Regions from separate parts of the Homo sapiens genome. Here region 1 is linked to region 2. Evidence: fine-mapped expression QTL. A gene starts in region 2. The other region holds a variant in brackets. All regions are shown on one strand. Distances are between the middles of the regions. Region 1 overlaps CYP19A1 (cytochrome P450 family 19 subfamily A member 1). Region 2 holds the start of CYP19A1 (cytochrome P450 family 19 subfamily A member 1).

What was found.
Region 1: its variant is fine-mapped to the expression of CYP19A1 in whole blood (GTEx, PIP above 0.99). The same link has a PIP of 0.9 or more in damaged cartilage.

The regions. Positions count from the first base shown.
Region 1 is chr15:51,222,446-51,225,363 of GRCh38, reverse strand. It overlaps CYP19A1 (cytochrome P450 family 19 subfamily A member 1), which reads left to right. Exons shown (of 10, transcript NM_000103.4): 5 at 2,839-2,918. All of the region lies in intron 1 of MIR4713HG (MIR4713 host gene), which reads right to left. Among named protein-coding and RNA genes, the nearest start is that of MIR4713, 18 kb to the left of the region's middle. The variant G/T (reference allele first, on the strand shown) is at 1,506.
Region 2 is chr15:51,337,064-51,339,981 of GRCh38, reverse strand. It overlaps CYP19A1 (cytochrome P450 family 19 subfamily A member 1), which reads left to right and starts at 1,386. Exons shown (of 10, transcript NM_000103.4): 1 at 1,386-1,487. RefSeq lists cis regulatory regions at 1,080-1,109, 1,174-1,191, an enhancer at 1,143-1,222 and promoters at 1,143-1,461, 884-1,461.

The DNA of each region.
Region 1 (2,918 bases), 110 kb after region 2:
GTGTATTAGGAATATGTGAACTAGTATTTAGTAGTAGTTAACTTTCACATACCAATATCCTCTACCCTGACATGCAAGAGCTAATTAAAAGAATCTCTAAGTTCATCCATTTGTTTAACACCCCACCGTTCTCATCTTTGAACTAGGTACCAAGATACAATGACAAACAAGATGTGGTTCCTGCCCTCCAGGAACTTATAATGGGGGAGAGAGGTTTGAATTAGGAAGGGGCAGCCCAGCACATCACCAAATACTACCCTAGGTGATGGTAATGCTGGCGGTGTGCCCAGAGTGATGCCAAGTACAGATGAACAGGCCATCTAAAGCACATTGAGGGGCAGGGGAGACTTTTCAGAGGAATGGATGCTTATAATGAGTTTTAAATGAAGGTAGAAGCTAATTAAGAAAACAAAAGACAAATATTCTAGGAGTAAAGAATAGGATAACCAAAGGCACAGACAAATAGATAGACATGATGCATCCAGGGCCCTGTCGGTAAGTCCTTGTGCCTGGTGCAGATACATTCAGGGACGTGGCCAAGGGGAGGGCAGGGCCAGATCACCAAAGACCTCTCAGTTAAGGCAAGGAATTGAGCTTATCTCAAAAACTATGGAGAATCACTAAAGATTTTAAGCAGAATAACATAAACATATTTGTATTTTATAAAAATCCCTCTGGTAGCAGAGAGAATGACTAATTGGAAGGAAGCAGGATTGTGAGCAGTGAGAACATTTAGGAGCTACTGCAGTGATGCAGGAAGGGTGGAGGGGAGGCTGTGGTTTCAAGAAATGTCAAAAGGGTAGACCCTACAGTAGTAGAGCCTATAGTACTTGGAAATTAAGCAAAACATCTTTGTGATTTTTTTTTAGACAGCCTTCTATAGGCAAGATCAGGGTTTCTACAAAAAGTGCTACATAACTGGACCCAAATTCATAATCTCAGGAAATAGGGGGATAATTGCTTATTGGAAAGTTCACTGTGGTGTCTGACATTTCTATAATCAATGAGGGTCCTAAGCATTTTTCAGTGAATCTCCTTTTGGAGTTAGACTCCCTGTTGGTTTTCCTGATATAGTGGAAAGTTTGGCACAAGTTTTAGTATCTAAATCAGTAACATTAATGAAAGTATTGACTTACTGGGTGAGTCTGTAGAGAAATAGTTAAGTGCAACTTAGGCAATGACCCATCTTGGGAGGTAGGGAAGGGTGGTGGCGAGGGGTGAAGAAATAGCATGTGTTTCCCAAAACTGCCGAGAAATGTGTCCATATTGATGGTATTTGCTGATTGTTGCCCAATTTTCTTTTCACTAGATAGAGTCAATACTTTTTAGCATATTTTAAAAATTAAATCATATCTACATCATACCACTGCCTATAAGCCATGTTATTACATTTTTGCCCATAAATTTGGCATGTGGCTTCAAGCTCTTTAAACACAGAGGCAAATCATGCATCGGCCTGGGAGAAAACCACAAGTGACATTCTAAGCCAACCCTTCCACACAAAG[G/T]GTTGAGTCATTTGTCCTGCTTGCTGAAGTGGCAGTCACCCAGAGAACAACATCCTGGCCTTTCATATCTGCCAAGTCCTTCCTATGGTCAGAAAGCCTGCTCCTTCCTCAACCTTCCTTCCAAGATGTATGGAAATCTCAAAAGTCTAGGACCAGTCCTCAGGCCTCCTTTCTTATTTGCAAAGTATACCTTTAGGCATGGGGATTCCGCAGCTTAACCCAGTGTGTGTGTGTGTGTGTGTGTGTGTGTGTGTGTGTGTGTGTGAGAGAGAGAGAGAGAGAGAGAGCAAGAGAGAGAGAGAGAGGATAGTCTTCTTCTGGAGTTACGTCTACAAAGTTTCCCAATATTTTTCATCTCATTTCAAAGACTCTGATGTTAACAGCAAACCTGAATAATAAAAGACTTAAAAAGAGATTACTCCTAAAAGATGCTTAAAGAAACGTAACACAAAGAGAGAAAGGGGCACTTTAAGGGTTAAACCCTCCTGTGTAGGCCACCTACCATCAGGACCCACCAGCCACTGCTCAGATATGAACAGGGCAAGAGTAAGATCAAAGCCAGTTTACTCTATTTTCATTCATTCATTCATTCATTCATTCCTCTATTGAAAAAATATGTATGAAGGCCCCCATGGACCATCAGCTTGAAGTGCAATGCTAATGAGTGGCTGTCACTGTCCTTAAAGAGCTCTCAGTTCAGTGAGGGAAGACTGGTAAGCAAGCAAGGAATTGCTTAGCTGTCATGCCATTGGCTGAGTAAAATAAACCTGGAAGTAGTTTGAAGAGAAATCAAAATTAAGAGAAGGGCACTTTGGGGGATTTTTACAACTAGCCTTTTACACTTAAACAGGAAGCACCTTAGATCAAATAGGATCCAATTTGACCAGTTTTCCAATAATATCCTGCCACCTGTTGAAACGCAAAATAAATATGACCCTAGGCAAATCCAAATCATCTTTGGAGGGAAATGTATGCAATAAATATGAAAAAATCACTGATTTGTGATTTATGACCACAAGTACTAAATGTTTCATTTGCAATCTCATAAATGGCTGGCTAGAGCATGAAAAAAAGTTTAATTTTTAATAGTTTGTTTAAAATAATATTTGTCCCTATCTCCTTCCGTTCATTCATTCTTAACCATAGGATAGTACATGCTTATGTAAAATTAGGAGACCACAGAAAAGCATACGAAAATATTATGAAAACTTCCACCCAATTATTAAATTAAAAATTGTGGACAATTAAGCTCCAACATAAAAAGCCAAAATGGCATGATTGTGTGTGTGCCCTGGAGTTCGTGATGGCTGATTCTCTGATGTGTACTCTGCAGCTCTGTCAGGCCCCGGCCTTGTTCGTATGGTCACAGTCTGTGCTGAATCCCTCAAAACACATCTGGACAGGTTGGAGGAG
Region 2 (2,918 bases):
AGCTCCCTGAGGCCTCCCCAGATGCAGGTGCTGCCATGCTTCCTGTTCAGCCTGTGGAACCATGAGCCAATTAAACTTCTTTTCTTGTAAGTTACCCAGTCTCGGGCTTTTCTTTATAGCAAGGCAAGAATGGACTAATACACATACCAATTCTTGCAGGTAGGATTTTTTGGCACAGGAGAGAAAGCTGAGTAGTATCAGACTTCTTGCCCCCTACTCTCCAGGGTGAGCCAGGGTAGAGCCTCTGAGAATGCACAAGGAAACTGAAGTGACATCTCAATCAGAAATTCTGAGTCAAAGTTTAGATTCCTGAGTTTTAATAGGAACATTGACCAACTTCAGTATTCTTAGAAGAGCATACAGGATAAGAAGAAATTAGGAAAGCATGAAGGTCCAAGTGTTTCATAAAGTACCCCCACTGTGGGGATATGATGACTGGGAGGGGATGGCAGTGATGTAAAAAGCTTTGTCCATTTCCTCCCAACTCAAACGTTCTGTGACCTACTTGAAGAACTGTCATGTATCCTTATCTCTTTTCATCCAGGTATCAGGTTTAGGGCCAATGGGGAGGAGCCACTGAGAGGGAGGGTTGACACTCAGCATCATTCAGATCTTCATTTAATTCAGTAAACACTTAACTGAGCACTTCCTGTGCCTGGTATGATAATGGGCATTGGAGATACGGAAGTAAAAAAGACAGGCAGATTACCCTGTGAGCAGCTGGAACACCGTGGAGCCTTCTGGGCTTCTCTTTATCCTAACATTCATTGCAGTTACTGTTGACTGATCATCTCTCAGCAATACCCACCATTAACCATGGAATAGAAGCCTCCTGAGGCTAGGGGCCATGTCACCCCCAACACATAGCACAGTTCCTGATTTGGAATTCACTATTACCCGTTGAATAAATGAGTGAATGAACGAATGAATAAATGAAAAGCTGTATAGTGAAGGCACTTCTATGTAGAACAATGTGGTGTGTGGTGGGGGGTGTGATCTTATGATTACATGTATATAGATTTTTGTCCATGGTTCTTGTCCATAACTCCCATGACACTTGCTGAGGTCTTTTGCTATAATGTAGAGGTGCTTTAGGCCTCAGGAAACAGAATATTTCTCTGGCCTTCTTTGCCCTCCTTTCATCCACCCAAGGCGGGACTCTATAATCTGATTGTGGGTCATAAGACCCTCATTCCAGAGGAGGTCATGCCCCATACCCTGGAGGAAGGAATGCTGCACAAAGAGAGGAAGAAGAATCTGGACAGACAGACCTTGCTGAGATTAGATCATACCCTTTTTGTCCAATCACATTTTGTTCAATCACATGCTTCAGTCATGGACAACAAATGAAATCTCCATAAAAGGCCCAAAGGACAGGGTTCAGGGAGTTTCTGGAGGGCTGAACACGTGGAGGCAAACAGGAAGGTGAAGAAGAACTTATCCTATCAGGACGGAAGGTCCTGTGCTCGGGATCTTCCAGACGTCGCGTATGTATCTCTTAATCTGACTGAGCCCTCAACCTGTGGGATCAGACACTCTTTCCAGGTAGATAGTGTTGGAACTGAGTTGGAGGACACCCAGCTGGTGCCCGCTGCTTGGTGTGTGGGGGAAAATCCCCTACATTTGGTCGCAGAAGTCTTCTGTGTTGATGACTGTTGTCGTGGTGTGAGAGCAGAGGGAAAACACTGCTTGAGTGTTTTTCTGAAATAGGAGGGCCTAAGAACTATACTGTTCTATGCCACAGAACTGGCCCCCTACTTTCCTTGAAAGGCTGGCTATCCAATGGTGAGGAGAGGAAGTGGTAGCCTGAACCAGCCTCCCCATTTCCCCACCTCCCACCCCAGTTCAGAGCCCAGATCCAGTAGACAGAGCAGAGATGAGGCCTGCTTGGAGCCAGGCAGGCTCTATTAGACAACTTCAGGCCAAGAAGCTGCCCCTCTTGGGATGCAGGACTCAAAAGGCTTGTAGCATGGCCACCCCGTGGGCTGGGTTGGTGGAAAGCCTGGGATATTGCTCTGGGGCAAGAGGGGCAGAAGGAAGCGCAAATGAAAAGCCAGACTCCTTTCCTACCAGACTCCACTGTCAGATCCCTCTCCAACTCTTCCTGTGTGGGATGATGGCATTTTTCACAGAAGAAGGGGGACATGTTGATATGGCCTACAAGGTAGACATCTTCACTCATCTCTCACCCTAAAGTGGCTGTGCCCAAGCAGCTGCCATGCTCTGCCCTCTTTCCTCTTCTCCTCTATCTTCTCTCTCCAACCCTCTTTCCACCGCAGTGCCACACAGTGACCTATCTCCATCACTGGCCTATTTCAGTGTTGCCCACTTTAAGGCCTAACTCCGAGTACCCTTCCTCATCTAGCCTTGACTTCCTAGGCCAGTCCCAAGCACTGTGAGCTCTACAAGCTGCAGGGGCTCTGTGGTTATGCACCTGGGCTTTGGAATCAGACCTGACCTTGAAACTGTTTTTTAACTGCATGACTTTAGATATGCTACTCAAGTTCTTTAAAGAGACTGTAATTGTATCTATTTCATAGGGTTGTGAAGCTTTAATAAGAAAATACTTGTAAAGCACTTGTATAATAAATGTTCAACACGGGTTGGTATTGTTGGATATGGGCCATATGAACTGGCTGAGACTTACACTGTGTGTGCCTTGTGCTGTTAGTTGACACTTTAGTTCTTCTGTGCCTTGTGCTGTTAATCGACATCTTAGTTCTTCCACATCCTATTTCTTCAGTTGGGTTACAATATTCTTAAGGCAGGGACCTATCTTAACTGTCCTCTCACAGCAGGGACTTGTGCCAAGTAGGAATATTTGATTAATGGATTCATTAGCTAATCACACTTTGTAGATGCTTTTTGAGGAACAGAACTTTTGAATGCACGATAAACTTGGGTTCTCGTCTGAATAC